Regions from separate parts of the Homo sapiens genome. Here all the other regions are linked to region 1. Evidence: fine-mapped expression QTL. A gene starts in region 1. Each other region holds a variant in brackets. All regions are shown on one strand. Distances are between the middles of the regions.

Region 1 (10,751 bases):
TGGTCTCCATGCCCCCGACCCCACCCAGCCTAATCTGGCTTCAGCTCCCTCCTCTCGCCTAAAACTGTGCCCACCTTGATCACCAGTCGTTTTCTTGAGTACTTTTCAGGTCTGTATTTCTTAACTTTTCAGAAGCATTCAGCAATGTGGGTGACTTTTTTTTAACTCTGGTTATGCCCACCTCTTTGGCCACCCCAGCAGGTACCGCCTAAATTTCTCTTCCTCTGCTCATCACTTAAATTTGGGGCTTGGCCAGGCATAGCAGTTCATGCCTGCAATCTCAGCACTTTGGGATGCTGAGGTGGGAGGATTGCTTGAGCCGGGGTTCGAGGCTGCAGTGAGCTATGATTGCACCACTGCTCTCCAGCCTGGGAGATGGAACGAGACTCTGTCTCTACATTAGTTCATTTTGGTGTGATTCATTCTTCCCCAAGGTACCAGTGACCACGTGTATACTGAGGGAAATCAAATATGTCTTTACATGGAGCAGGTCACTCGCTTCTCATCCTTGGGTACTACCAAATCATTATCCAAAATGCACCCCTCGAACTCCCCACAGCCATACCCACTCCTCCTTCTCTCCTTGGGAATGGTGGCTCCAACAGTTACTCAAGGACACAAGCCAGAGAGCTGGGAGTCATCCCTGTCTTCTCCTTGCCCCTCACCTATAGTCAACAAGAAGCCCTGCCCACCCTTCTTCCAAAATAGACCTAGAATCCAACCCCTCTTCTCCACCTGCACTGCTTCCAGCCTTGTCTTGGGCCTCACTGCTTATCACCTGCACCCCTGCGAAGTGTCCTAATGCATTTCCCTGCATCTGCCCTTGCCCTCTGCGGTTCGTCCTCACCATGGAAGCAGCCAGACCAATCTTAACTCCACTACATGCCACTCCCCTAAATTTGCCACTGCCCTCAGGACAAAAAGCAGATTCACCTGGCACTCTTTTAACCCAGTGGATCATTTCCATTTCTTCTTCTTCTTCTTCTCCTTTTTTTTTTTTTTTTTTTTTTGAGACAGGGTCTCACTCTGTCACCCAGGCTGGAGTGCAGTAGCATGATCATGGCTCACTGCAGCCGCGACCTCCCTGGACTGAGGTGATCCTCCTACCTCAGCCTCCTGAGTAGCTGGGACTATGGGCACTCACCATCATACCTGGCTAATTTTTGTATTTTTTTGTAGAGATGGGGTTTTGCCATGTTGCCCAGGCTGATCTTGAATTCCTGGGCTCAAGCGATCCTCCCATCTTGACTTTCAAAGTGCTGGGATTTCAGGTGTGAGCCACCATGCCCATCCCATTTCCTCTTTCTTAAAACAATATCTTCACTTGGCCTTCAAACCATCACTCCTGATTTCTCTTCCACCTCACTAGCTACTTCTTTTCCTTCTTCTTTGCTGGACTCGTGCAACTCCCTAAACTCCGAATAATATTAAGTGCTCTGGGGCTCAGTCCTGGGTCTTTTTCTCTTCCTGCTGTGTCATCACTCCCTTGGTGATCTCATTCAGTGTCATGGCTTTAAACATCCCTATGCCGGTGACCCCCACATTTTATCTCAAGTCCAGACCTCCTCCCTGTAATACAGACTCGCATATCCAACTCCCCACCACATATCTCCACCTGGGTCTCTGACAGACACCCCAAACTTCAGTTCCAAAACTGAGTTCCTTCCTCATCTCCATGCCCAGCCTATCCCACCTCAGTTAAGGGCAGTTCAACCTTTCTGTTGCTAAGGCCAAAAGCCCCGGACTTAGACCTTGACTCTGATCTTTCTCTCTCATCATACTCTACCCATTAGCAAGACCTGTCAGCCTTGGAGTCAAAATATATCCAGCGGAATGACATGATGTCCAGATTCACTTCCAAATAACACAGTAGGGAATCTAGGGATGGGGGTAGAATTGAAACCAGACTGTCTATAAGTTGATCATTGTTGAAACTGGTGATGGTACATGGAGGTTCATTGTATTATTCCACTTTGTTTGAAATGTTCCAAAATCAGAAAAATTAAAACATACTATTTCACTGCTACCACTCTGATCCAAGTCAACTGACCTCTTGCCTGGACTGTTGCAGTAGCCTCCTAACCATACTTCTGCCTCCACTTTCACCTCCACTCCACCCTCTGCTTCTAATTTAATTTCCTCCCAGCAGCCAATGTGATTAATTCCATTAAAATGAAAGACCGTGTCACTCCTCCACTCAAAACTCTCCAATGTATGGTGTCAGACTCCTACAGAACAACAAAAAATGCTCCCCAGTGGTTCCCCATTTCATTCAGAGTAAAGCCAACTCCTAACAGTCGTCTTCAAGATCCTATCCACTCCTGCTCCTTGTTTATGGAATAAATCTTTTTAAAAAGATCTTATATCCTGGCTGGGTGCGGTGGCTCACGCCTGTAATCCCAGCACTTTGGGAGGCCGAGGCGGGTGGATCGCCTGAGGTCAGGAGTTAGAGACCAGCCTGGCCAACATGGTGAAACACCGTCTCTACTAAAAGTACAAAAATCAGCTAGGTGTGGCGGTGGGCACCTTGAATCCCAGCTGCTCAGGAGGCTGAGGCAGGAGAATCGCTTGAACCTGGGAGGTGGAGGTTGCAGTGAGCCGAGATTGTGCCATTGCACTCTAGCCTGGGCAACAATTGTGAAACTCCATCTCAAAAAAAAAAAAAAAAAGGATCCTGTATCTATTTGCCTTGCCACCCTTTACTACTTAAACCGCATTCCCTTCCACTCTCTGCTCTTGATCACTCCGTTCCAGGCACACTGATGTTCCTTATACTTGCCACCGGGCAGTACCACCACAGGGTCCTCGTACTTTCCACTCCTTCTGCCATGAAGAATCTTCTTCCTTCTGTTACACACGTGGCTCACTCTACCTTCTTTTTTTTTTTTTTTTTTGAGACGGAGTCTCGCTGGAGTTCAGTGGTGCAATCTTGGCTCACTGCAAGCTTTGCCTCCTGGGTTCACGCCATTCTCCTGCCTCAGCGTCCCGAATAGCTGGGACTACAGGTGCCTGCCACCACGCCCGGCTAATTTTTTGTACTTTTAGTAGAGATGGGGTTTCACCGTATTAACCAGGATGGTCTCGATCTCCTGACCTTGTGATCCACCCGTCTTGGCCTCCCAAACTCTTCACCTTCTTATGTCTTTGCTCAGATGTCTCCTTTTCAGGGAGGCCTTCCCTAATCACCTTATGTAAGACTGAAACCTAAATACATGCCCCCAACACACACACACACACACACACACACACACACACACACACACACAACCTCTTAATCCCTTCTCTTGCTTTGTTTTTCTGCTTAGCACTTATCACCGTCTTCTTTACTATAATTTTACCTATTTATCCTATTTGTTGTTTGTCTCCACTACCAGAAAGAAAACTATCTGCAGGTAGGGATTTTTCACTACTGTTTGTTCACTGTTGTATCCACAGCACCTGCCTGGCACAGAGTAGGTGCCCAGTAAGTATCTGTTGAATGAGTGAACGAATGAGTGAATAGCACTCCAAGATTCAATCCTGCCCACCTGTCCAGGTACATTTCTAACCTCTCCCCTGCTCACCCTTTCATCCCAAGGCACACAGCACACTTGAGTCCCTGGCATATCCTAGCATTATTTATACTTCTCAGCCTCTATGCTGTACCCTCATCCTCCTGGCTGGAGTGCCAGTCTTTTTTATTTTTTATTTGGAGACAGAGTCTCATGCTGTCACCCAGGCTGGAGTGCAGTGGCACCATGATAGTTCACTGCAGCCTGAAACTCCTAGACTCAAGTGGTCCTCCCACCTCAGCCTCCCAAGTAGCTGGGGCTACAGGTGGACACCACCACACCTAGCTATTTTTTAAAAAACTTTTTGTTTTTAAAACAAAAACTGGAGTTTTAAACTCCAGGCCACCACTGCCTCTCACCTGCACCACTGTGCAGTGTCCTGACCATCTCCCTACATCTGTTCTTGCCCTTGCAATCATCCTCACCACAGAAGCAGAGAAGTTACAAGTGTGGCAAAGGGCAGACCGGAATTCAAAGCCAATGTGGAGTGGGGAGTTGGATACATGAGTCTGGATTTCAGGGAAGAGGTATGGATTTAAGATACAAATGTGGGAGTCACTGGGTATGGTGGCTCACGCCTGTAATCCCAGCACTTTGGGAGGCCGAGGAGGGCAGATCAGGAGTTCAAGACCAGCCTGGGCAACATGGTGAAACACTGTCCCTACTAAAAATACAAAAAGTTAGCCAGGCGCGGTGGCGGGCTCCTGTAATCCCAGCTCCTTGGGAGGCTGAGGCACAAGAATCGCCTGAACCTGGGAGGCAGAGGTTGCAGTGAGCCGAGATTGTGTCACTGAACTCCAGCCTGGGCGAGACAGTGAGACTCCATCTCAAAAATAAACAAATAAATAAAAATAAAATTAAAATGTGGAAGTTGCCAGAGTAAAAACATTTAAACGCTGGCTGAAATCACCAAGGGAGTAAGTCTAGAACAAGAAGAGAAAAGGACCCAGGACTAAGCCCTGGAGCACTTAATATTATTCAGAGTTTGGGAAGTTGCAGGTGTCCAGCTATGTTGCCCAGGCTGGTCTTGAACTCCTGGCCTCAAGTGATCCTCTCACCTTGGCCTCCCAAAGTGCTGGGACTACAAGCATGAGCCACCATGCCCAGCCCGGATCCCCAGTCTTTAAGATTCCTCTCAAGCAGGTGTCTGCTAACACCAAATGAAACTCATCTGCCGGCTTCATGTTTTCATGCTTTTTTCCTACTTAACTCATCGCACTGGACTTTTGCAGTCTCTTTTTTCTGTGTCTCCTCCACCGTTCTGGGAGTCCCCTTGGAACAGGAACCTCATCTTATTTTGTCTTCTTGGCTCAATGCATGAACTTCTTGGTTCAGTGCGTGAATCATAATACCTGTTAAACCCACTCTATGGGCCGGGCGCGGTGGCTCACGCTGTAATCCTAGCACTGTGGGAGGCCGAGGTGGGCGGATCATTTGAGGTCAGGAGTTTGAGACCAGCCTGACCAAAATGGTGAGACCCCCGTCTCTACTAAAAATACAAAAAAAAAATTAGCCGGGCGTGGTGGCACATGTCTGTAGTCCCAGCTACTAGGGAGGCTGAGGCAGGAGAATCGCTTGAACCCGTGAGGCAGAGGTTGTAGTGAGCTGAGATTGCACCACTGCACTCCAGCCTGGGCAACAGAGCAAGACCCGGCCAAAAAAAAAAAAAAACAAAAAAACAAAAAAACCCACTCTATGAATAGTGAGGGTCAAAGAGGTTAGAGTCTGGCACAGGTAGACTAGAATTCCCAGTCTGTTCTCTTGGGCTCCAGATTCTCACTCCACCACCTGAACACTAGTGAGTCCCTTCCGTTCCCAAGCCTCAATTTCCTTAGACAGATGTAAGCAGTTGAATTGACTAACAACTATCCAACCCCAACCTACTGGGCAAGTTGCCTCCTTTGGGGTCAAACACTATCCAACTTCAGTTTCCCAACGTCATAAAGGAGAACTCTAAAAGTTGAGAATCGAAACTGATGACAGATTGACTAGACGGCCAGCCTGTTAAGGTGGCCCCAGATATTCCAGCCTCAGCCCAGAGTCCTCCTGTGCCCCTACTGCAGCAAGGGTGTCTCCAAGAAGGGGGACCTGGAGTCAGCCCGTCACACCTGGTTTCCTCTCTGCTAGGGTCCCTCCTCCCACAGAGCACTGGAGGGCAGCTGAGGAGGAGCTACCTTAAAAAAGGAGGTGTGTGCCAGGGAGCTGGGTAGGAGCCTGGCTATATATCTGCCCAGCAGCGGTACTCTCGGGACAGAGATGGCACTGATGCAGGAACTGTATAGCACACCAGCCTCCAGGCTGGACTCCTTCGTGGCTCAGTGGCTGCAGCCCCACCGGGAGTGGAAGGAAGAGGTGCTAGACGCTGTGCGGACCGTGGAGGAGTTTCTGAGGCAGGAGCATTTCCAGGGGAAGCGTGGGCTGGACCAGGATGTGCGGGTGCTGAAGGTAGTCAAGGTAAGACTGGGCTCCTCCAGCCCCCACGCAAGACAAAACCCAGTATCAGAGTCCACGTCCCTGGGGATGCTGGGGACCCCTGTCCTCCTTATCCCTAGCCCATGCTGATGACATCTCAGAATACCCCATCCCACCTAGCTGTCTACACCCCACTGCACCACTGCCTTGAGTAGAATGAGTCTAGTAATAATAGCTCACATTTGGGGGCTCACTGGACTAACCTCTTAACATACACTATCTCTAATTCTTGCACTCTGTGAGATAGGTACTATTCTTTGCCCAGTTTACAGATTAGCAAATGGAGGCTCAGAACCAATACAATGCGAGGTCCTTGGTTGGATCCTAGTGTGAATGAACCATCTGTAAAATATAGTTTGGGGACAACTGGCCTAGATATCAGATAGTACATATATCTGATATGGGAAATCATTGTTGATTTTGTTAGGTGTAACAGTAGTTTTGTGGTTATCAGAAGGTTGTCTTTTGTTTGGACACGAACACTGAAGTATTTTAGGGACAAAGTTCCTTGGTGCCTATAATTTACTTTAACGTGGCTTAGATTAAGCACATGTAGCCAGGAATTTAGACTTGTTGAATCAACTAGTTGGGTATATGAGTGTTAGTTGTATCATCTATTTTTCTATGTGTTTTAACTTTTTGATAATAAAATGACTTTTTTTTTTTTTAGAGACAGGGTCTCGCTCTGTCACCCAGGCTGGAGTGCAGTGGCACAATCACCACTCACTGTAGCCTCAATCTCCCTGAGCTCAGGTGATCCTCAGCCTCCTAAATAGCTTGGGATTACAGGCATGCACCACCATGCTCAGCTAATTTTTGTATTTTTTGTAGAGATAGGGTTTCACCAATGTTGCCCATGCTGGTCTCGAACTCCTGGGATCAAGAATATGCCCACCTTGGCCTCCCAAAGTGCTGGGATTACAGGTGTGAGCCACCATGTCTGGCCGGCCAATAAAATGATTTTTGTTTTTGTTTTTTTTTTTTTGAGACAGAGTCTTGCTCTGTCACCAGGCTGGAGTGCAGTGGCACGATCTCAGCTCACTGCAACCTCTGCCTCCCAGGTTCAAGCAATTCCCCTGCCTCAGCCTCCCAAGTAGCTGGGACGACAGCGCCCACCACCACGCCCGGCTAATTTTTTGTATTTTAGTAGAGACAGGGTTTCACCGTGTTGGCTAGGATGGTCTCGATCTCCTGACCTCATGATCTGCCCTCCTCGGCCTCCCAAAGTGCTGGGATTACAGTGAGCCACTGCACTCGGCCTAAAATGATTTTTTAATGGAGGCTCAGAGAGGTGAGGTGACTTGCCCAAGGTCACACAGTGTTGAAGCTGGGATTTGAACTTGACTCAAGGGACCCAAGCCCCCCTCACTGAGATTTTCCCCCAAGCCCTTCCTCCAGCTGTTTCATGCCACCGCCTGTGCTAGCTAAGATCAAAATTCAAGAGGGTCGGAGCTAGAAAGACTTTGGAGAATCAGACAGTCTCACCAATGACTCACTTAAAAAATTAAGTAAACCGAGGCACAGAGAGGGTGAGAGATACCCCAAGGTCACACAGCGAGTTGGTGGCAAAGGCAAGACTAGAATTAGGACCCCTGACTCCCAGCCCAGTGCTCAAGTTCTCTCTCTAGGGGCAACCAACTCACAGAGGGATCTAGAAGCCCTGGGCCCCTATCCGTTCTTTGCACCTATCCCCAGCATATGAAGCCTGAGGCCATACAATTTATAAGTGAGAAACCACAAATTTTGATATTAGACAGACTCTTCGCTTCTTCCTTTACCAGCTGTGTGGTTTTGACCTTCCCACTCTTCTTTCTCAAACCCACATTCTTTTCATCTGTGATTGGGGCATCATCATCATCTCTCCCTCACCAAGCCAGTGGTGCAATGCAGGCTGAATGATTCATGCACGATAAATGCTCAGAAACAGAAGCATCATTATAATTCTTGCCAAGCTTTCTTCTGGGCCTGGGACTCAAGTCTGACTCTGGCAGACCCTCCTAGACCACCCCCTCCCCAACAAACTTGAGAATAAAGTGGAGGGAATAAGGAATGTCTGGTAAGAGGAGGATGCTACAAGAATAAGTTTATTGTGTGTGTGTGTGTTCCACCACGCCTGGCTAATCTTTGCATTTTTAGTAGAGACGGGGTTCCATCATGTTGGCCAGGCTGGTCTCGAACTCCTGACCTCAAGTGATCCACCCACCTCGGCCTCCCCAAATGCTGGGATTACAGGTGTGAACCACCACGCCCGGCCAAGAATGAGTTTTTACGGCAGGAAATGCTATTTACCTAAGCCTCAAATACTTCCTGCACATCATAGCCACTTTTCCTCTTGAAACCACTAAATGGTAGCAATCCCCAGTGAGCCATGACTAATGAGGAATAATATATCTTATTTAGAGTCTAAACCCTCCCGTTCCCCACCCTCTGAAAATCTAGTGAGCGGAGCTGGTCCACATAAGGGAATGCTCGTCTTCAAATGAATTGTGCTTAAATAGGTTTAAAACTGAAGCAAATCAGGAAGCCTGTTCTGGATGTGTTCTTTTCTCTCTGCCTGGATCTTACCAGTGGGAAAGGCAGAAAGGGAAGTCTACGCCAGGCACAGTGGCTCACGCCTGTAATCCCAGCACTTTGGGAGGCCAAGGTGGGAGGATTGCTTGAGCCCAGGAATTCGAGACCAGCCTGGGCAAAATGGTGAGACCCCCGACTCTACAAAAATATATATAAAAAATTAGCTGGGCATGGCGGTGCATGCCTGTAGTTCCAGCTACTCCGGAGGCTGAGGTGGGAGGATTGCTTAAGCCCAGGAGGTCGAGGCTTCAGTGAGTGAAGATCGTGCCATTGCACTCCAGCCTGGGCAACAGAGCAAGACCCTGTCTCAAAAAGAAAGGGAAGTCTAGACTGGCCTTCGGGGGGAATGTGTCCTTCATTCACACACAGGGTGCCATCTCCAACCCTCTCCCAGGGGGTGGAGGTGCTGGGTCTGAATGCCCATGGTCCCTTGGAAGCAGGGCCTGGCTCACAGCCTTGGGTCACGAGGAAGAAAGAGGCGGAAGAACCATCCCCTACTTGAGTTCTGGCTCTTTCTCTGACTCTGCTGCCTTCTGGCTGGGAGACCATGGCAAGCTCCTCACTGCCTCAGTCTTCTCATCTGTACATTGGAGATAATTCTCCTAGTACCCACCTCAATACAGGAAGTGAAGGCGTTTTTTTTTGTTGTTTTGTTTTGTTTAGATGGAGTCTCGCTGTGTCGCCCAGGCTGGAGTGTAGTGGCGAGATCTCAGCTCACCACAACCTCTGCCTCCTGGGTTCAAGCGATTCTCCTGCCTTAGCTTCCCCAGTAGCTCGGATTACAGGTGCACACAACCACACCTGGCTAATTTTTGTATTTTTAGTAGAGATGTGCTTTCACCATGTTGGCCAGGCTGATCTCGAACTCCTGACCTCATGATCCGCCCACCTTGGCCTCCCAAAGTGCTGAGATTACAGGCATGAGCCATCATGCCTGGCTGGGAAGTAAAGATTAAAAGGAATAATATGTATACAGGGCTCTTATGGGTGCCAGACACAGGGCGTGCTCATGTCATCCAGCATCCGTGCTCATGTCACACAGGGCATGTTATATCATCCGGCAACAGCTGGAATCTGATTCTTGTGCAGTGACTCCAACCACCAAGAAAAGTAGCCTTCTGGGGGTCTGATGCCTCCCTAGCAATTCCACCTCCCAACACAGAATGAGAAGGAGAGGAGGCCAGAGAGTTGTGGCGCTTTGCATACCAGAGGCACCAGGGCCTGGAGAGCTCATCTAGAATCTCAAAACATCGAAAAATCCCTTCTCGACCTCCTTCCATTACTAACAGGAAAACTGACCCCCCGGCAGCAGAAGAGATTGTCTAAGTCAGCTGGATAATGAGAAGAAAGAGAAATGTATTGCTGACTTCCTGTGTGCCAGGCACCCCACCAAACGCTTGGCATACATTATTTCATCTGATCCTCCCAGTAGCCCAGTGACTCTTGTTCCAACATTACTTTCATTTTACAGATGAGGGTCTCAGGAGTCAGAATGTTTACCCAGCTAAGAAACAGGGAAGAGTCAAGATCTTTTTCAGGCTGCTCCATTTCACAGCCTATGGCTCTTAAATCCACCAGGCAAACTTGCTCCTTGCTTTATAATGTCATGAAATTATTCAGCCCCACCACCACCCCCAGAATCCTCAAACAACCCTATGGAGTAGATGCTACCATTCCTCTGGAGTAGGCCTTACTCTGTGGGTAAGAAGACTGGGTCTCAGAAGCAATGCAGTGTAGTAGATAAGAAGCTGGGCATTTGGGGAGGCCAAGGGGGCAAATCGCTTGAGTCCAGGAGTTCGAGACCAGCCTGGGCGACATGCCAAAACCCAGTCACTACAAAAAATACAAAAATTAGCCAGGCATGGTGGCGCAGGCCTGTAGTCCTAGCTACTTGGGAGACTGAGGTGGGAGGATTGCTTGAGCCAAGATCATGCCACTGCAGCCCAGCCTGGGCAACGGGAGTGAAACCCTGTGTAAAAAAAAAAAAAGAGTCTGGGCTCTGAGGGCTGCAAACTGCGAGACCTGAGACAAATGACTAATGAGGAGAAAGACAAATGTGTTGCTGACTTCCTGTGTGCCAGGCACCCCACCAAACCCTTGGCATACATTATTTCATCTGATCCTCCCAGTAGCCCAGTGACTCATATTCTGCCATTG
Region 2 (10,751 bases), 57 kb before region 1:
AGGAGTTCGAGACCAGCCTGGCCAACATGGCAAAACTCTGTCTCTACTAAAAATATAAAAATTAGCCAGGCACGATGGTGCACGCCTGTAGTCCCAGCTACTTGGGAGGCTGAGGCAGGAGAATTGCCTGAACTTGGGAGGTGGAGGTTTCAGTGAGCTGAGATCGTGCCACTACACTCCAGCCTGGGTGACAGAGCAAGAAGACTCCGTCTCCAAAAAAAAAAAAAAAAAAATTTGTTGTAAATTCATATGCATGGATTTATATCAGGATTACCTATTCTGTACTATTTGTCTGTGTGGTCTGTTTTTATGCCAGTACCGTGCTGTTTTGGTTACTATAGCTGTGTAGTATATTTTGAAGTCTGATAGTGTGATGCCGCCAGCTTTGTTCTTTTTGCTCAGAATTGCTTTGGCTAGTTGAGGTCTTCTGTGGTTCCACATAAATTTTATATATTTTTTCTTTTTCTGTGAAGAATGTCATTGGTTTTGATAGGGATTGCATTGAATCTGTAAATTGCTTTGGGTAGTGTTATAATTTTAACAATAAAATCCTTGCCATCCATGAACATGTAATATCTTTCCATTTTTTGTGTCCTCATTAATTTTTTTCATTAGTGTTTTATAGTTTTCCTTGTAGAGCTATTTCACTTCTTGGTAAATTTATTCCTGTGTGTTTTATTTTTATTTTGGTGCTATTGTAAATGAGCTTCCTTTCTTGATTTCTTTTTCAGAATGTTCTTTGTTGGTGTATAGAACTGCTACTAGCCTGGGCAACATGGTGAGACCCCATCTTATCTCTACAACATTTAAAAAAAATCTAGCCAGGTATGCACCTGTGGTCCCAGCTACTTGGGAGGCTGAAGTGAGAGGATCGCTTAGGTCCAAGAGATCAAGGCTGCAGTGAGCCATGTTCGTGCCACTGCACTCCAGCCTGGGCAACCCAGTGAGACTGTCTAAAAAAAAATTAGAAATGCCACTGATTTTTGTATGTTGATTTTGTATTCTGCAACTTTACTAATTTGTTTATCAGTTCTAACAGTTTTTTCGTAGAGTTTTTAGATTTTTCCAGGTATAAGACGTGTCATCTGTGAACAAGGCTTATTTGACTTCTTCCTTTCAAATTTGGATGCCCTTTATTTCTTGTTCTTGCCTAATTGCTCTGTCCAGGACTTCCAGTATTATGTTGAATAAAGTGGTGAAAGTGAGCATCCTTGTCTTATTCCAGTTCTTAGAGGAAAGACCTTCCATTTATCCTCATTCAGTACAATGTTAGCTATGGGTTTGTCATACATGGCTTTCATTTTTTTTGAGCTATGTTATTTCTATAACCATTTTGATGAGGGTTTTTAATATGCTAAACTTTACAAAATTATTTTCCAGCATTTATTGAAATAATCATATGGTTTTTGTTTTTGCTTCTGTTTAGGTTATGTATCATGTTTATTGATCTGCATGTGTTGAACCATCCTTGCATTCCTGGGATGAATCCCACTTGATCATGAAGCAGGATAGGTAGTCAAAGAAGTAACCATGTTCTCAGGATGCAGTAACTGTGGTGACTATACAGTCAACACAATAAGCCTCAGTATTTGCATTGTAATTGAGCTCATTCAAGCAAAGCTATCTTCAGTAGGGACTTTCCCCTCTGGAGAGCATGAACAGTTTGATTTTACCTGTCCTCAAACTGACCCTTTGCTCATTATAATAGTAAAAAAAACCACCCCTGGGTGGAGATTTAAGATGCGAATGAGACATGCAATGTATGAACAATCATGTACAGCTACTGTGCATGGGCAAGAGGACCACCCAGAAGATGCTTACTACCAACACCTCTTCCAACCCTTTATGAATAATCGTGTAAGACTTCCATAAAGAGAGTCTTCCTAGTGCCAGTTTTTGCTGTCTCGCCCTTATGAGCAACAAAATTCTCTCTCCCAGGGTATATTATCTATTTTGCACCAAACTTTCAAAATATTATTATTATTTGAGATGTAGTTTCGCTCTTGTTGCCCAGGCTGGAGTGCAATGGCACGATCTTGGCTCACCGCAACCTCTGCCTCCTGGGTTCAAGTGATTCTCCTGCCTCAGCCTCCTGAGTGCCACCATGCCCAGCTAATTTTGTATTTTTAGTAGAGATGGGGTTTCTCCATGTTGGTCAGGCTGGTCTCAAACTCCCAACCTCAGGTGATCTGCCTACCTCGGCCTCCCAAAGTGCTGGGATTACAGGTGTGAGCCACTGCACCTAGCCCAAAATAGTCTTTTTCTTTTGCAATAAATTACTCTATGTTGCATCTCCTTTGCTGTGAGTCTGTTTAAATTTTCTTAAACTAAGAAGACAAGAACTGAGGTCTTGCATCAGCCATCAACAATCATGGTGAATGGTCTTTTTGATGTGCTGTTAGATTCAGTTTGCTAGTATCTTGTTGAGGATTTTGGCTCTATGTTCATCGGGAATATTGGCCTGTAGTTTTCTTTTTTTTGTTGTTGTGTTCTTGTCTGGTTTGGGTATCAGGGTAATGGTGGCCTTGTAAAGTGAGTTTGGAAGTGTTCCCTCCTCTTTAGTTTTTTGGAAGAGTTTGAGTAGGATTGGTAATGGTTCTTCTTTAAATGTGTAGTAGAGTTCAGTAGTAAGCAAAACAGCATGTGCCTTCGGCTCCTGGAGCAGAGGATCCCTGTCTCTCAGTGCACGCACCATGCCTGGCATGGAACTGGCCTCGGACTCCACTTGCAGCCTTAATAACTCCATTCTTTGGATTTTGCTGTCTTATATTTGCCTTTCGTAGAAGGCTGAGAAGTAAAAAAGAAAAATACCACTGGACTCACCTTCATGAACTAGTTTCAAAAACTTTCTGCTCACAGAGTAAAAACACTTCATATTTAGATCAAGGAAATGAATTAAACCTAATCAGTTTAAAATCACCCTCACTAGACCACACTTTTTTCTTTTGAGATGGAGTCTCTGTCGCCCAAGCTGGAGTGCAGTGGCGCGATCACTGCAACCTTCACCTCCCAGGCTCAAGCTATTCTCCCGCCTCAGCCTCCAGAGTAGTTGGGACTACAGGCGTACACCACCACAATCTATTTTTGTATTTTTAATAGAGATGGAGTTTCACCATGTTGGCCATGCCGGTCTCAAACTCCTGACCTCAGGTGATCCACCCACCTCAGCCTCCCAAAGTGTTGGGATTACAGGCCTGAGCCACTGCACCCGGCCTACAACAACTGCTTTGAAAGGGCTTTTTCTCTATGATTAGGAAGATCCATGTTTAGAAGCTTGGTAAATAAATCCAAAACCTCTTCCCAGACAATGAATTGACCCTTCGATGTCCTATGTTTTTTTTTTTTTTTTACCTTTGCTAGTCACTGTATCAAAAGTAAAAAATATTTTTATAATCTTACTATTTTTCTTACATCACAACTTACATAAAATGAGATGCACTTCTTTTTAAAAAGTTTTCAAAAGCATTTTGTTGTGGTTTTAGATGATTAATAGGTGATCAGTTTGAAGAGTGAGAATGAAAAAACCAGCACATGTGGGGGAAGGCTGGGGAAGGGATTTGATTATATATTTAAGTGACTGAATTCAGTTCTCTCTCATTTCCTGGACAATAGTTCTGTTTTTTTCAGATTATTCTGATCATTTCAAATTAAAGCGAAGACACATGATCAGTTCTCAAGTCCTATGTTCTCATTAGGAAAAATAGAAAAACATGCAACTCTAGCTGAATATGGTGGAAAATATTTTGTTAGAGGTCCTTTCATAGGGCCTTTGTCCAGATGTTTGGACCGAGGCCCCCGAGGGCATGGAGAGCCAGCCTGAAGGACAGCGTAGGGTGTGCCTGCAGGGAAGGTCGTAGCTCACCAGTGACAGAAGAGGCAGACTCCCCTTCTTCCAGGCCTTGGTCTTCTACATCCTAGCTCAGTGGTCATTTATTTGTCAGGCCCTTCATTTTACTGATTTAATAACGTGTTTAAGGCAGGGTGCGGTGGCTCACGCCTGTAATCCCAGCACTTTGGGAGGCCGAGGTGGGTGGATCATCTGAGGTCAGGAGTTCGAGACCAGCCTGACCAACATGGAGAAACCCATCTCTACTAAAAAAAAAAAAAAAAAAAAAAAATACCCCGACGTGGTGGCGCATGCCTGTAATCCCAGCTACTTGGGAGGCTGAGGCAAGAGAATAACTTGAACCCATGAGGTGGAGGTTGCAGTGAGCTGAGATCATGCCATTGCACTCGAGCCTGGGCAACAAGAGTGAAATTCCGACTCAATAATAATAATAATAATAATAATAATAATAACAACAATAATAATAATGTGTTTAAATAATTTATCTCATATCTCTGCACCTTCACTCCATTTCTTTTCAAAGAAACAGAGAAAAACAAAAACAAAATGTCATAGTTCTGGGCCGGGCACGGTGGCTCACACCTGTAATCCCAGCACTTCGGAAGGCTGAGGTGGGTGGGTCATTTGAGGTCAGGAGTTTGAGACCAGCCTGGCCAACACGGTGAAACTCCACCTCTACTAAAAATGCAAAAATTAGCCGTGCGTGGTGGTGGGCATCTGTAGTTCCAGCTGCTTGGGAGGCTGAGGCAGGAGAATCGCTGAGGGAGCCCGGGAGGTGGAGGTTGCAGTGAGCTGAGATTGTGCCACTGCACTCCAGCCTGGGCAACAGAGCAAGACTCTGTCTAAAAAAAAAAAAATAAAAGTCACAGTTCTACTTGACCCAGCAGCAGGCTTTAAAACCAGAGGCTTTAATTCTCCCAATTTCCTCATTTGTCAAAATGCAGAAGCCAATCTAAGTAAATCACCTAGAACGGCAGCAAGCTACGTAAGTTCGGGGCTGAAATGTGATATTTCTTCTGAATCTCTCTTTTCTTACAACATCAGAGAAATGGGTAATAAATAGCACCAAACCCAGGGGCTCCACATTTATTCCTCTTTCCGGAGGAAATAAATTCTAGCCACCATATTTCTCAATAGGAACCGATATGTAAGGAGAATGAATTTATTCATTCATGAGTCATGTATTCAATCCTGATAAAAATACTTTATTCTGGTCTTCAATAGCAAATATGACCGGAGAGCCAGAGGGTCAGTGGTCCTGCTCTGAGCTGTGCAGGTGGGGCTGTCTCTGGGTAGTGGGAGGGTCGGGTGGGTGTTTCTGACCTGGGCGTCTTTGCCCAGAGGAGCAGAAGTGAACACACGCCCTCCCACTGGGCTCTTCTGCTGACGTGGGTTGGTAGGACGGTTATGGCTCAGCTTAGGGTCCGCAGCTGGGCAATGAGGAGACTGGAGGGGCCTTTCTCAGGTAGTGGCGTCTGGTAATCAGCAGATGGCGCCCGAGGTCGCTGGGCCCGCCCCGCGTGCGGGTCTTTCTGGTTGACTCCCCAGGCTCTTGCGTGGGAACTCACCACTGAGCACTGAACGCAGTTCCTCAGTCCGAGACCTCCTCACTCTCGCAGGACGCACAGTTGCACACACAAGTCCCTCACCTGTCACGACCCACGCTCTTACATACTCTCCCACTCCCACCCACACCCCCTCTCTCAGATGTGTGATCCAGGATTTCCTCTCCACCCACAGCCGCAGACGCCCCCACGGTTCGTGCAAATGTGCACACTCGGTGCAGCAGATCCCCGCCTCCTGCACACGTGCGCGTTTTTCCAGCCTCGCACTTTATCTCACACGTTTTCTCACCCAGAGACCCCATTTCAGACACACACACCCTCTCAGCCTTTTCTCTTGCCTCCCAACCCCTTAAAACGGAAATCCTTTATTTCCTCCGGAATTTGCTCACTTCGTG[A/G]AATGCCGGTCTGTCTTCTGGCGGATCCTATAGGGCAGCCCTTTCCTGCCCCTTGGTTCCAACAGCCCCTTTCATGCCAGTTTTTGTCACGTGCCTCTTACCATGCTGAAGTGAAATTGACCCAGCCATCACACAATGCCCTAACTCAGGGGTCTGCAAACAATGGCCCCAGAAAGCTGTTTGTTTTCCCCCAGCTTTATCTGAATATGCTTGAAAAGTAAACATTGTATATATTTAAAGTGGGCAACCGGATATTTAATACACATTGTGAAATGATCACCGCAAACTAAAACACCCACCATCTTACATTGTTACCACTTTCTTTCTTTTTTGGAGGTGGGGTGGTTAAGGATCTTAAGATCTACTCTCTTAAGAAATTTCAGGTATACAACAGAGTGTTGTTACACGCTGTACGTTACATCTCCAGAACTTACTCATCTTGTATAACTGACACTTTATACCCATTAAACAACACCCCGTTTTCTCCAACCCTCAGTCCCTGGCAACGACTATTCTACTCTACTCTCTGCTTCTATGAGTTTGGTTAGTTTAGATTCCACATATAAGTGAGATCATGCAGTATTTATTTATTTATTTATTTATTTATTTTTCTTGATGTGGAGTCTCGCTCTGTCGCCCAGGCTGGAGTGCAGTGGTGCCATCTTGGCTCACTGCGACCTCTGCCTCCTGGGTTCAAGCGATTCTGCCTCAGCCTCCCGAGTAGCTGGGACTACAGGCGTGCACCACCACAATCTATTTTTGTATCTTTAATAGAGATGGAGTTTCACCATGTTGGCCATGCTGGTCTCAAACTCCTGACCTCAGGTGATCCACCTGCCTCAGCCTCCTGAAGTGTTGGGATTACAGGCGTGAGCCACTGTACCAGGCTGAGATCATGCAGTATTAGTCTTTCTGTGCTTACTTATCTCACTTAGCATAGCAGGTTCATCCAGGCTGTTGGAAATGGCAGGATTTCCTTCTTTTTTGGAGCTGAATAATATTCCATTGCGTAGACACGTTTCCCTCACCCATTCATCTGTGGATGGATGTTATTTTCCATAATGGCTGTACAAGTTTACATTTTTACTAACAGTGTACAGTGATCCCTTTCCCCCACATCCTCAATAACAGTTGTTATCTTTCCTCTTTTGGATAATAGCCATTCTAACAGGTGTGAGGTGATGTCTCATTGAGGTTTTGATTTGCATTTCCCTGATGATTAGTGCTGTTGAGCACTTTTTCATACACCCGTTGGGCATTTATATGTCTTCTTTTGATAAATATCTGTTCAGGTTCTTTGCCCATTTTCAATCAGGTGATTTGTTTTTTGCTACTGTGTTCCATGAGTTCCGTATATATTCTTGATATTGCCTCCTTATGAGATGTACGGTTTGCAACGTCAGGAAGCTTTTCCCCTGTGTTTTCTTCTCGTAGTTTTATGATTTCAGGTCTTACATTGAAGTCTCTAATCCATTTTGAGTTGATTTAGAATATGCAAAGGAAGCACTTGAAAAAGCCAGCACTAGGTTGGGCAGATCCCTCCTGTGGGAAACTGACTTGGGATAAGAGCAGGACTGCCTGGCCCCCCAGTGAGAGGTGACAGCGTGCTAGCAGCCCTCGCTCGCTCTCAGCGCCTCCTCTGCCTGGGCTCCCACTTTGGCGGCACTTGAGGAGCCCTTCAGCCCGCCGCTGCACTGTGGGAGCCCCTTTCTGGTCTGGCCAAGACTGGAGCCGGCTCCCTCGGCTTGTGGAGAGGTGTGGAGGGAGAGGCGCGAGCAGGAACCAGGGCTGCGCGCAGCGCTTGCGGGCCAGTGCGAGTTCCAGGTGGGCGTGGGCTCGGCAGGCCCTGCACTCGGAGCGGCCGGCCGGCACCGCCGCCCCGGGCAGTGAGGGGCTTAGCACCTGGGCCAGCAGCTGCTGTGCTAGACTTCTCGCCGGGCCTTAGCTGCATCCCCGTGGGGCAGGGCTCGGGACCTGCAGCCCCCCATGCCTGAGCCTGAGTCTCCCCAACCTCCACCCCGCCCCCGTGGGCTCCTGCACTGCCTGAGTCTCCCCGACAAGTGCTGCCCCCTGCCCCACGGCGCCCAGTCCCATCGACTGCCCAAGGGCTGAGGAGCACGGGCGCACCTTGCGGGACTGGCAGGCAGCTCCACCTGCGGCCCTCGTGCGGAATCCACTGGCTGAAGCCAGCTGGGCTCCTGAGTCTGATGGGGACTTGGAGAACCTTTATGTCTAGCTAAGGGATTGTAAATACACCAATCGGCACTCTATATAGAGCTCAAGGTTTGTAAACACACCAATCAGCACCCTGTGTCTAGCTCAGGGTTTGTGAATGCACCAATGGACACTCTGTATCTAGCTACTCTGGTGGGGACTTGGAGAACTTTTGTGTCTAGCTCAGGGATTGTAAATGCACCAATCAGCACCCTGTCAAAACGGACCAATCAGCTCTCTGTAAAATGGACCAATTGGCTCTCTGTAAAATGGACCAATCAGCAGGATGTGGGTGGGGCCAGATAAGAATAAAAGCAGGCTGCCAGAGGTAGTAGTGGCAACCCGCTCCGACCCGTTTTCATAGTGTGGAAGCTTTATTCTTTTGCTGTTTGCAATAAATCTTGCTACTGCTCATTCTTTGGGTCCACGCTGCTTTTATGAGCTGTAACACTCACTGTAAAAGTCTGCAGCTTCACTCTGGAACCAGCGAGACCACAAACCCACCGGAAGGAAGAAACTGCAAACACATCCGAGCATCAGAAGTAACAAACTCCAGACAGGGGGCCTTTAAGAACTGTAACACTGGCCACGAGAGTCCGCGGCTTCATTTTTGAAGTCAGTGAGACCAAGAACCCACCAATTCCGGACACAGTACTTGCTGCCTCTCTATATCATCTCCTCTGAAGGCAGGTATTTGCCTACACAGTCTGCTGAGTACTAAGTGCAACACACACTGCAGGGGCTTCCCAGAGCCCTACTCGGATTCAGGTGGATTCTTATGCAGATGGTGAAAAAGGTCAAAAGTTTGAACTGGGAATCAATTGCTGTAAGTTTCTCTATGATATTCTCCCAGCAAGATGTCTTCCTTGTAATAACTTGGGAGAACGTTGACTCCAGGGTAGGAGAGTGTTCCTGAGGAGTCGGCACACTTTATGGCTGGCCCCAGGCCGTGGGTCAGAAAAATCCACAGCTGGCCACACCATTCTGTGCAGCGGGAAAAACCATCAGTTGAAGGTACTGTGGAAAATCAGTTAAGCTCATTCAATCATCCTGGTTCCTGGTGGGTTCAGTGTCCCATATTTAAGACAAAACTCTTAACACTGTTATGCTGTGGTCTTCTTTGAGTTCATCTGTGAAAAATCTAAATTGTTAAGTCAATCACTAGTCTTACAACTAGAAAAGAAACATACTATGTAAAGTTGCGACACTTTTCATAGAAAGCAACATCTCAATCTAATGTTACATATTCAGGTGAGTGTTAAACATCATCTGAGATGAGCTCTTCTCTGGGCTCAGCCACATCTCTCAAGATCCCAAGAGAATCAAAAGGTTGAAGTGTGAATCAATTTGTATGAATTTCTCATAAATCCTGTCAACAAGATGTCAACAGCTGTCTTTATCGTCATACATTTGGGAGGCTGTTGCCTCCAGGATCTGACAGTGGTTACCAAGGAGTCAGCACCGTCTATTGCTGGCCCCACGCAGTGGGTCAGAAAAACCCACAACTGGGCAGACAATTGAGTTCATCCCAGAAAACCATCCATTGAAGGTGCTGTGGAAAGTCAGTGAAGTTCATTCAATCATCAAGATTCTAGGGGGTTCTGTGTCCCGTACTGAAGTCAGAACTCTCACACTGTTACGCCTTAGTCTTCTTGCAGTTCATCTACACACATCTAAAATGAAGTCATTGCTGTTTCTGCAACTGTAGAAGTAAAGATGTATTTACAATTTAAAGGATGGTACCATTTTACTGGAAAGCAACGTCTCAATCTTATGTTGACACATTCACCTGAGTGTTAAACATCCACTCAAAAGAGTGTTGCCAACCTTGACTAAAATAGTCATTGTGTAGAACAGTTTGAAATTAACATGAAAATGGAACAGACAGAACAGAAAGGTCTCAGATCCTTTGTCCACCCTTTTCTTTTCTTAACCCCATTTTCAGTGGTGTGGTCCATGTGTGTAACAATGACTAAACCAATATGGATACATTTTTACGATCTGAAGTCAGGAGTTTGCATGGAGGTTCACCGTGTTGTGCCCTCTATGGGTTGTGACAAACTCCGAATGCCATTCACCACCCATACGAAGTAGCTGCATGCCTTAAACACTTCCTGTGTTTCCCCTGTGCATCCCTCTCCCCTTTGCCAGAAGCCCTGGCAACAAGAATCCTTTTCACTGTGTCTAGAGTTTTCTCTCCCAGAATTGTATAGGCTTGGAATCATGGAGTAGGCAGCTTTTTCAGACGGCCTTATCCTCCTCAGCAATATTCATTCACTGCCAGCATCTGTCTTTGAGGTCACCCCATGGTCGCCACTCCCCCTTCCCAGCTTTTCCTTGCAAGGTCTCTTGTTGGCTCCAGTGGGAGCTTCTTCCCATCTGCCCAGGCCCTTCCAACGCCCCCCAGTGTCAGCAAGGCCTGGACCAGGGACACCAGCAGCCCCCTGCACTGGAGTCCTGTGGCTCCACCCCAAGTTTGAAATTTCCCAGTAACCCTGCAGCCACTGCCCAGCCAGTTCTGGTAGAAATCAGGGAAAGAAGGATCTTCCATGCACTCAGCGACCTTCTCAACTGAAGTCTAAAGTTTCACTACAGATAATGTTGCCAAGAATGTGGAAAATCTGCCTCCCATCATCACCTCTGCCAGCCACGGCTTCTGTGTGGTTGGGCCACATGCACTGTGTAAAATGACAAAGGGGCTTCATCAATGGCTGAGCATCAGGGCAGGCA
Region 3 (10,751 bases), 220 kb after region 1:
GTTTCCTAACTCACAGAAAAATTTTTCTCTGAATACATCAGGTCTGTTTGATAACAAATTCAGTTAACTGAATTGGGGCTGCTTTTGCCATAATTTCCTTTTTAGTGTGTCAGGCTTGTTTTTTCAAACTAAATAATTGGCTGGATTATATAGTTTTTCAATTATTAATTTAGTAAAACTTTATTATTTTGGATTTAATGAATTAAAATTTGTGAACATTGTTCTGGATCAAACTGACATTATGTAAGTTTGGATCTGTCCTTTTTTTTTAAATGAGTTTAAGGTGTTAGTAATTAAGATTCCATTTGTGTTATAAATATAATGACTATCCAGTAGACTTAAGGTAGTGTCATATAAGGAAGGGCACACTATGAGAAAGGGACTGGGGGTGGGGGGCATGTTTACCCTTTAACATTTGTTCCATTCCATCTGCAGTTAAGCTTTCTAGAAATATGTTGTTACAGTAGCTACTTAAGTGTTTTTAAATTGTCTTTTCAAATGAATAGGGCATGGAAGTTTGTTACTCTTTTCTGTGTGAAAAACAGTGTCAAAAGTTTAAGAAGGCCAGGCAGCTTCACGCTTGTAATCCCAGCAAGTTGGGAGGCCAATGCTGAAGGATCACTTGAGTCTAGGAGTTCAAGACCAGCTTGGGTAATATGGCAAAACCCCATCTCTACAAAAATTGCAAACAAAAAAAATTAGCCTGATGTGGTGGCATGCGCCTGTCTCCCCAGCTACTTAGGAGGCTGACATGAGAGGATCACCTGAGCCCAAGGAGGTCAAGGCTGCAGTGAGCCGTGATCATGCCACTACACTCCGGCCTGGGTGACAGAGTGAGACCTTGTCTCAGAAAAAATAAAAGTTTAAGAAAACCATTGTATTTAAATTGGGCTCTTTGAAAATTAAATTCTGCTATAGAACTTACTCTGTAGTATTACTTGTTAAATTCTATATCCGACTGAAGAACACAAGCTTTTAGTATTTAGTATAAGTGAAAAATATAGCCAAATCAGACATCACTAACACTTTTTTGTCTTTTTTGCTAACGTTTCCACCAGAATCCTGTGTTCCATTAAAAAAAAATTTTAGTGTTATTTTAAAAACTCAAATAATACAGAAATGTGAAATAGTCCCATTTTTAATAAAAGTGGTTTTATGTGATACGTAGGTCTTCAGCTTGCTTCTTCCTAACAATTCTTCGTGCCATTCTTTTAAATTTCTTTGTGGGCTGGGTGCAGTGGCTCACGCCTATAATCCTAGCACTTTGGGAGGCTGAGGCGGGCAAATCACAAGGTCAGGAGATCGAGACCATCCTGGCTAACACCGTGAAACCCCATCTCTACTAAAAATAGAAAAAATTAGCTGGGCTTGGTGGCGGGCGCCTGTAGTCCCAGCTACTTGGGAGGCTGAGGCAGGAGAATGGTGTGAACCCGGGAGGCGGAGCTTGCAGTGAGCTGAGATTGCGCCACTGCACTCCAGCCTGGGCGACAGAGTGAGACTCCGTCTCAAAAAAAAAAAAATGTCTTTGTGATAGAGTGAATTATATAAAACACAATGACTATAGTAAAACAAATAGGTTAATTCACCCCACTATGTTTCTGTTTTTTCATCTGTACAAAATGGGGATCATAATGGGAAGCTCTTAGGACAGTGCTGGGCACATGACTCAGTAAAAGATTGCTGTTACAACTTGGAAAAGGGAATCATCAGCCTATATAGATGATAACCAAAGGCATGAGAGTAGACAGTATCACCCAGAGATGAGATGTGGAGTAAGAAGTAAAGAGAACTGATGACAGAGCCCTGATGGGCAGAGGAGAAGGAGAAAATACGGAGCCAGAGAGCAGGGAAGAAATCCAGTAGGATGTCGTGGGAGCTGGGATAAAATTGTTTCAAGAAAAGGAAGTGGCTACTGTTGTCAGATCCTGCAAGGGGAGCGGGGATATCAAGTAAGATATTGACTGAAGTGTTACTAGATTAAGTAACAACAAGATTGTTGATGATCTTGGGGAGAGCAAATTCCATGGAGTGCTGGGGATAGAAGGCACAGTGTGACAAGGAGATACCAGTGAAGACGGCAAATACAGCCAGATCCCTAGCTTTGGTAGCCCTATGTGAACTGGCCTTTCTTCCTTTTGTTCTCTGTCCTCCCCGCCACCGCCGCCGCCCCCCCACCCCCCACCCCCACACACACACTCTCCGTCTCTCACAGACACCTTTGTGGGAATATGCTCTAGCTCTTGCTTTTTGTCTCTTGCACGCATGATCACTCACTCTTGCTCTCTCCTCTCTAGCCCAACTGAACTGCTTGACTACTTTGTGAACTCCCAGCAGGTCGCACTGTCACATAGGCCTCCATGCTGAGTTCCTACACCTGTCTGTTTAATTTGGCAACCTGTTTACTTCTTTTTGTCTCCCTGTTAGGCAATTCTTGGTGGGTGGTAGGGGCTGAGTCTTTATCATGGAGTGCTAGTACCTAGCAGAGTCCTCATGCATGTGGTGATACATAAGATAGGACAGAACAGTGACCAGAGGTATTTATTCTAGTTGGAGCTTGTAACAGACATTAGATACTGCAAGATGATGGAGAGATTTGGTTTGATTTTTAGATGTGTTGAATTTGAGGTGACCGTGGTATATGCAGGTAGAAGTGTGCCCCCAGGGTCATTGGAGATTTGCTACTGAAATTCAGTCTGTCTAATCCCTCCTTGCTCTGGGGCTCAAGAGACTTTCCTTCTTCAATTTTTTCATCATCCCAGACAGAAACCCTAGTTTGTCCTGATAGAAGTAAGGGATGAACTGTGATTTAAACTCTTAGGCTCCTGTTTGCTTGTCCACAGAATTTGTCACTAGGAGAGGTTAGCCCCCAGGAAATAACTAAATGTCAATCTGTAGCATTCATTTTTAAAAGTCACTGGAAATTTTCTTCTTGAAGTTAGATTTTGGAATTGTAGGGATGCTTTTAAGACTTCGTTTCTAGAATCATTTCTAAAACTATTATCAGCATTAAATGGCAGGGAATAATCTTTTAATGAAACAGATACAGTAAAAACCAGTTCTTTTAGAGGTTAAGAGCAGTTTTTAAAATTTTCCTTAAGTTTTATAAAAGTTGTTATTGTAAAATATACATAACATACAATTTGAAATTTACCATTGAACTTTTTCTAAGTGTACAGTTCAGTAACATTAAGTACGTTCACTTATGTTTTGTGCAACAGTCACCACTATTCATTTCCAGACCTTTTTCATCATCCCAAACAGAAACTCTGTATGCATCAAACAAAAACTCCCCATTCCCTTTCTCTCCAGTCCTGGTATCCGCTATTCTGCTTTCTTTTTCTATGAATTTGCCTAATCTAGGTCTGTCATATAAGTTGAGTCATAACAATATTTGTCTCTTTTTTCTGGTTTATTTCACATAGCATCATGTTTTTGAAGTTGATTTATGTTGTAGCATGTATCAGAATTTTCTTCTTTTTTAAGGATGAATAATATTTGATTGGATGGCTGTACCACAATTTATTTATCCATTCATTCACCGATAGACACTTGGGTTACTTCCACCCAACCCAACCCATTATTCACGGCCCAGCCATTGTGAAAATTGGTGTACAAGTATGTTTGAGTCCCTGCTTTCAGTTATTTGGGGCAAATACCTAGGCTTTAGTAAGTTTTATGAGCACATATCCTGAGAGGGTATTTAGATATCCAGTAGCATTTTTCTTATGAAATAGTAATTTCAACCAGCATGTTAACATAGATTTTTGCAAGTTTTTAAGGAGATTTATTTTGTACAAGTTCTAAAGCAGTCTTGGATCATGATACAAAGATACCTTCAAAAGCTGTATTATAATTTTTTTTTTCTGTAAATAAGTCCCTTGGCCAAATAAAAATGCAAAACTGCTTTATCCAGCTTGTACCTATTGGCTTTGTCCGAGGAAACCAGTTGCCTAATTTCTTTCCCTTGCCTTATGTTTGCTGCAGCCAGCCCAGGGCTGTTTCCGGCTGCAGTGTTGAACACAGGAACCACAGTGTGTTGCTGGTTGTGTGCGCAAGTCACAATCAAAAGCGCATGCTTTGGAAACTATGATGTGAGGACCTGTCTTAGAGGATAATTCATAGGAAAAAGTTGAAGCATATTGCCATCGAAGCCTTTAATGTGGGGTCTTCTTTCTGTTTCAATCCCTCTCCCCGCCCCCGGCAATAAATCCTTTCTTATCTATCCTAGGCAATAAGATGTATTTGAAAACAAAATTACTCCAGATCATCTTTACTGCCTTGAAGACTAATACCTTTCTTTCATATGAATTTGCTCAGTCAGCAGATTTTGTATCTCTGATGGAAGTAATCATTTTTTCATTGTATTAGTCTTGGTAAAATATAAAATATTAACATATAGTATATTTCATATATGTCTTTCCATGAAATATTTTGTGATAATGCAGGGATAATATTTTGATATTTTTGTGGAGGTGGGATCTCCATATGTTTTTCAGGTTGGTCTTGAACTACTAGGCTCAAGCAATCCTCCTGCCTCAGCCTCCCAGAGTGTTGGGATTACAGGCGTGAGCCACTGCGCCCAGCCTTAAGTAACTATTTTATTTACTACTTGTACCTTGCACGTAAATGGTTAAATTTAATGTATTAAATTTTTATTTCATAACATACCTATTCTGTTATTAAGCTTGCAATACATATTTGGTTTTTTCCTTTAAAATATGGGGAAATGTGGAAAACAATGATCTCCAACATTATAATGTTAGACTAATATTTTTAGATAGGCCGGACACAGTGGCTCACGCCTGTAATCCCAGCACTTTGGGAGGCCGAGGCGGGCAGATCACAAGGTCAGGAGATCGAGACCATCCTGGCTAACACGGTGAAACCCCGTCTCTACTAAAAAATAGAAAAAATTAGCCGGATGTGGTGGCAGGCGCCTGTAGTCCCAGCTACTCAGGAGGCTGAGGCAGGAGAATGGCGTGAACCTGGGAGGCGGAGCTTGCAGTGAGCCAAGGTTGTGCCATTGCACTCCAGCCTGGGCGACAGAGCGAGACTCTTGTCTCACAAAAAAAAAAAAAAAAAAAAAAAATTTAGAGAAAGATACAAATTAAGTCCTATTTCAACATATTTCCATAAAGGGAAAAATGAACATTTCTGTAAGCATGGAATACAAGTTTTTTTGCATATAATTTTTAAATTTGAAATTTTGGATAGCAAAAAAATTCTAACAACCTTTGGTGTTTTGTGATCTGTAAGAATTGCATGTGAGAAGGTGTTAGCAGTTTGCATAGCCAGAGCTTATGGGTAAAGGTAGAAGGCAGCAATTCCCGAAATGTGGCTCATGGACCATGGGAGATTCCTGAGACCCTGTCATGGGGTCCATAGGGTCATACGGTTTTCATAGTACTACTAACATTACTTGTCTTTTTCATTTTCGCACCTTTTTTCTCATGGTGGCAAAGCAATGGTGGGTAAAACCTCTGGTGCGCCCTCACCTGAATCAAGGCAGTGGCACCAGGCGGTCCTGGTAATCATGGTGTTCTCCATCACCAGGCACCCAGCTTATCTTCTGAAATGCCATTTACACTTAGAATGTTCTTGACGAAGCAGTAAAAGTTTCTTTTGTTAAGTTTTAACCCTTGAGTACACTAAGTGATAAAATGGAAATTTTTAATGATAAAATGGAAAATTTCCACAAAGCACTTCTGCTGTATTCCAAAGTACCATTGGTTATCTTGAGGAAACCACTTGTGCAGTCATTTGAGATGCTAACTGAACTAGATTTGTTTAAAATTGGAATACCATTTTTACTTGAAAGAATGACTTTTGGGCATATTTGGCAGATAGTTTCTCAAAAACGAATCAAGTGAGCCTGTCACTTAAAGGGAAAAAAAGTGTTTTTATCAATGATAAAATTTGAGCTTTCAAGTGAAAATAGAATTTTTGAAAATTTGTATTTGCTACCATAAGCCCCAAGAATGGTACTAACAATATGATTTTTCAGATATTGTATAATGAAAAGAGACAACATCTGGAAGAGCGGCATAACTCAGCAAATCAGTATCTTCCAAATTACCAATGCATGATGTTACAAAATCATCCATGGGT[A/G]AAAGATTCACACAAAGTTCAGGATAGTCCAGTGGATTTTAATGTAATATAGTAAAATTCAAAAAAATCCATTGAGATAGTTTCAAATTCCACATTGCAGTAAACCTTTAAGAAATTACCACTTGTTGAATTTTAGTGTAGTATCAAAGAAGAATATTGATAGTTATCTGAAAAGGCTATGAAGTACTCCTTCTTTTCCAACTATCCATCTGTGTAAAGCTGGATTTTTTTCCCCATGGAGTTCAGTTCAAACAACATATGACAGTAGATGGAATGCAGAAGCCGATATGAGAATCCAGCTATCTTCCATTTAAGCTAGACATTAAAGAGGTTTGCAAACATGTGAAGAATGTTCCTTGTCTCGCTTAATTTTTTTGTTCTGTTTTGTTTTGGAAAATAGATATTTGCCCTTTAAAAAATGTTATTTATGTTAACATGTAATGGTTTTATTGTGTATAAATAATATTTTAACTTTTTCTCAGTTTTAATTTAATACGGTAAATATCACTAACCCACATGTGCTAAAGCTCTTTGGGAGTCCTCAATTTTAAGAGTGTAAATTGTTCTGCAACCACAAAGTTAGAGAAGTGCTGGTCTAAGGCAATGTCTGTGCAGTGTTAGAATAGTAGTTGCTTGGTTTTGGGGTGGACAAGAATGCTTTCATTGTATAGCTGGAAGGCTGACACATAGAACACGTTATAGAACAGTACTCTCTGTGTCTCAGTTTGGCATGATTTTTAGCAGGATATGTGTTATAAGCACTTGCTGGTAAAGTAGCTAGAAATAGATGTTTGACTGTAGAGCAGTTACTAAAATCCAGCATGGTTCTAAAAATCTTAGGGTTTAGAGTTTAGTCTTGTATATGAGAGACATTTCTGGTAACTCTTTGTCTATTAAGGTAAAGGCTTGCAGGAATGTAGTTAAAGAATTAGTGGTCTTCATAATGAATATATAAAATATTTCAACTCAACAGCTGGCCTATACTGATACATCAGTTGACAAAGTCTTCAAGACTGTTTTCAATACATTTGGCTAACCTGATTTTGGTGTGTCTCAAATGCATGTATTTAGTTTCTTTCTGTGTTTCAGTAAGAATTCCTTTATCTCAGAATAGAGTAGTTCCTGTCTTTCATGTCCGCCCAGAGCCTCTGGGAACAGACACCTCAGTAGGAGGGCCTGAAGAATGACACATTTCTGTTGATGCTTTGGTAGAGTCTGAAATGTAGGATAGGGAGAGACTGTGAAATAAGATTGCTGGGCTTTGATTTCCTATTATTGGCCAGACTTACCCACCCTTTTTCCTTGGAATACCTTTTCTTCCCTGTCTGCTCCATTGATCGTAGTCTTACCCCAGATCCCCAAACCCCAGCTCCTGTAGTAAAATCTGTGTCTATTTCTGAAATGCTGATGAACGCTTGCTTTCTTTGTGTGGGCAAAGAACAGAATAGAGGATGATACAGGAGGGGCCCTTTTCCTCCCTGTCGTTACCAGCAGTGAAAACCTTTAGACATTTTTGAAACCGCTCTGTGCTCATTTTTATGAGCTTGTAGAGTAGGTGAAAAGTGAGCCTACTTCAGGAGACCAAGGGCATAAACAAATATGGGATAAAGCAGTCTAGCAGAGGGAAAATGAAGAGTTTGTAAATTAGCCTTAAGGCTGGCCACATTTTTTAAAAAGACCCTAGGGAAGAATTTCCCATGGGTTGAATAAACGAACCAGAGTTGCTACCCAGGGTAAGATGATGGCTTACCTTCATATATGTCTACTGGTATAATGTAAGATTTTATATTAAGCCATTTTTAAATCTGTAAATATTGGGTGATTAAAAGAGGAAAATACCAATTTTAGTCACCTGGAAACAGGGTCATCTGTGGCAGTGCCTCTTTGGCTATGTCAATGATGGGCAACATGAAAGATGGAAAGAGTATTTCTGGTAATATTTCTGTTTTTGAAAGCAAAACAATATAAAAATACAGACTTTTTAAACTTTTTTGAGACAGGGTCTCGCTCTGTCACCCAGGCTGAAGTGCAGTGGCACGATCATGGCTCATTGCAACCTGAAACTTGTGGGCTCAAAGGATCCTCCTACCTCAGCCTCCCAAGTAGCTGGAACTACAGGCGCGCCCCACCGTGCCTGGCTGATTTTTTTTTTTTTAATTTTTCATAGAGTCACATCTCATTTGTTGCCCAGGCTGGTCTTGAACTCCTGGGCTCAAGTAATCCTCCCACCTCGGACTCCTAGAGTGTCAAAATTACAGGCATGAGCCACCACACCCAGCCAAAACCTAGACCCTTGAAAAATAAAAATTAATTTGGCCTTCAAGTTTATCTGGGCCCAAAGAGGATTTTATAGGTAATAGAAAGATATAAAGGATTGCCCAGGGAGGATTACATAGCTAATTACTGTATAATTACAGATAGAAACTTCAGTTTGTCATCCAGTTTTGGGCAGATATTGAAGTCAATTTGAGAGACTCTGGAATTAGGCCTCCTAAGATCAGAAGTGCATCTGGCTCTTGATCTTAAAAAACACTAATAATCACAGAGATTCACAGTTCTCCAGCCCTGGGCAACATTGTGAAACCCTGTCTCTACAAAAAATACAAAAATTAGCAGGCTGTGGTGGCTCACACCTGCAGTCCTGGCTGCTTGGGAGGCTGAGGTGGGAGGATTGCTTGAGTCCAGGAGTTGGAGGTTTCACTGAGCCAAGACCGTGCCACTGCACTCCAGCTTAAGCAACAGGTGAAACCCTGTCTCCAAAAAGAAACAACAACAAAAACTTTTATAATGATAGTTTGAATTGAAAATAGTATATGAAATTTCAAATAACATCGTAAAATAATCTATAACTTCTAGTTATGTGATATTTGGTAAAGTTTGCCAAATTGTTAGAACTTTTTAAGATCTTAGTATAAATTATAAAATACCATGTACAATATTAGGGGTGAACTTTAATCAGATTTTCTTGTATAGGTTTATTTGAAAGCTAAAACAAAACTTAAGTTAGAAGAAACCATTAAACATCTGAACAGTTTTTTTGAAATCAGGCATTTAGTTCTGCAGTGGGGGACATGCTCACTGCCAGGATATGGAGGTGAGATCTGGCAACCTTAGTCACACTCTTATATTTTGCACATGGTCAAACCTTCATCTAGAAAAACAGACTATGAAGAAAGTCAGTAGCTACAGCTCCTCAGAGGCTGGAGCACAGCACAGAAGATCTGTCAGGGAGGAGCTGGTTTTTGAAAATTTAATCCAGGCCAGGTGTGGTGGCTTACGCATGTAATCCTGGCATTTTGGGAGGCTGAGGTGGGTGGATCACCTGAGGTCAGGAGTTTGAGACCAGCCTGGGCAACGTGACAAAACCCTGTCTCTAATAAAAATACCAAAAATTAGCTGGGCATGGTGGCGGACTCCTGTGATTCCAGCTACTTGGGAGGCTGAGGCAGGAGAATTTTGCTTGAACCCAGGAGGCGGAGGTTGCAGTGAGCCGAGATCGCACCGTTGCACTCCAGACTGGGCGACAGAGCGAGACTCTGTCTCAAAAAATAAAATAAAATAAAATAAAAATTCCAGACTTCCAGAAGTCTGAGGTTAAGAGTTTCTAGAGAGTCTCCATTGATTTGAGAGATGTAGCAAAATAATTAAACAATAGTATCAGACTTTAAGGCAGTGAATTTGGGAAGTGTAGATATTTAATCTGCCTTGAGGGTAGTGACAATATGCTTCAAAATACAAAGGATACAAAAACAAAGTCATCCAAGTAAGACACCATCAGAAGAAAAGTTCCTCAGAAGAAAGCCGCTCTTGTTTTTTTATAGCTCTGGAGTCTGGAGAAAACTTTAAATTGCCTTTTAAAAATACCTGCTGACCTTTAATCATAAAAAAGAAAAGCTGCTCAATCTCACTTTAATTTTTAAATTTTAATTACAATTTTAATGCAAATAAAAACCATACTGAGATACCAGTTTTCATCTCTCAGATGGGTAAAAATTCAAAAGTTAGACAATACTCACTTTGGAAAGTAGGAGCATTGAGTTCATTACGGATGAGAGTGTGAAATGGTATAACCTCTCTGTAGGGCACTTTGGCAACATCTATCAAATTGCAAGTGCATTTCCCCTTTGAGCCAGCAATCTGACTTTGAGGAATGTTATACAAACAGGTCATTTCATGTGTGTGCAATGCAGGTATAATTTACAAGGCCCATTATTACAGAATTACTTGTTAACAGCAGAGTTTTTGGAAACAACCCCAGTGTCCACCTGTAAGGAACTTGTTCTTAAAAAACAAAACAAAACAAAACAAAAACTGTGGGGCATCTACACAATGGACTATCATGCTGATGTTTAAAAGAAAATTTTAAAAAGGAAGTTCTCCACATCCTGATACAGAAAGATTTCTAGGCTATATTGTAAAAGGGGGGTAGAGGGAGATACTGAGCAGTATATTTAATATTCTACCTATTTCATAAGAAGTGGTGAGAAATAATGTTCTTATATTGTATGTTTACTCCAAAAGGCTAGATAAGAAACTAAAAAATGTGGTTATTTAAAAGTTGTTATCTAAAAATGACTGAGAGGGTGGGGGTTGGGTGATGACTAGATGGGAGTAAGACCTCTGTGTATGTACTTTTTAATATA

What was found. PIP is the estimated chance that this variant, and not a neighbour inherited with it, causes the effect.
Region 2: its variant is fine-mapped to the expression of OASL in whole blood (TOPMed, PIP above 0.99).
Region 3: its variant is fine-mapped to the expression of OASL in whole blood (TOPMed, PIP above 0.99).

Annotation. Positions count from the first base shown.
Region 1 is chr12:121,034,028-121,044,778 of GRCh38, reverse strand. OASL (2'-5'-oligoadenylate synthetase like) reads left to right here and starts at 5,533. Exons shown (of 6, transcript NM_003733.4): 1 at 5,533-6,005. The coding sequence starts at 5,808. RefSeq lists enhancers at 5,369-5,788, 5,368-5,867, 5,868-6,369.
Region 2 is chr12:121,090,710-121,101,460 of GRCh38, reverse strand. It overlaps LOC105378258 (a long non-coding RNA gene), which reads left to right and starts at 8,466. Exons shown (of 4, transcript XR_007063492.1): 1 at 8,466-10,751. LOC105370031 (a long non-coding RNA gene) reads left to right here. Exons shown (of 4, transcript XR_945458.2): 4 at 732-771. RefSeq lists an enhancer at 7,876-8,377. The variant A/G (reference allele first, on the strand shown) is at 5,808.
Region 3 is chr12:120,814,645-120,825,395 of GRCh38, reverse strand. All of the region lies in intron 1 of SPPL3 (signal peptide peptidase like 3), which reads left to right. Among named protein-coding and RNA genes, the nearest start is that of SPPL3, 84 kb to the left of the region's middle. RefSeq lists an enhancer at 2,439-2,508. The variant A/G (reference allele first, on the strand shown) is at 6,109.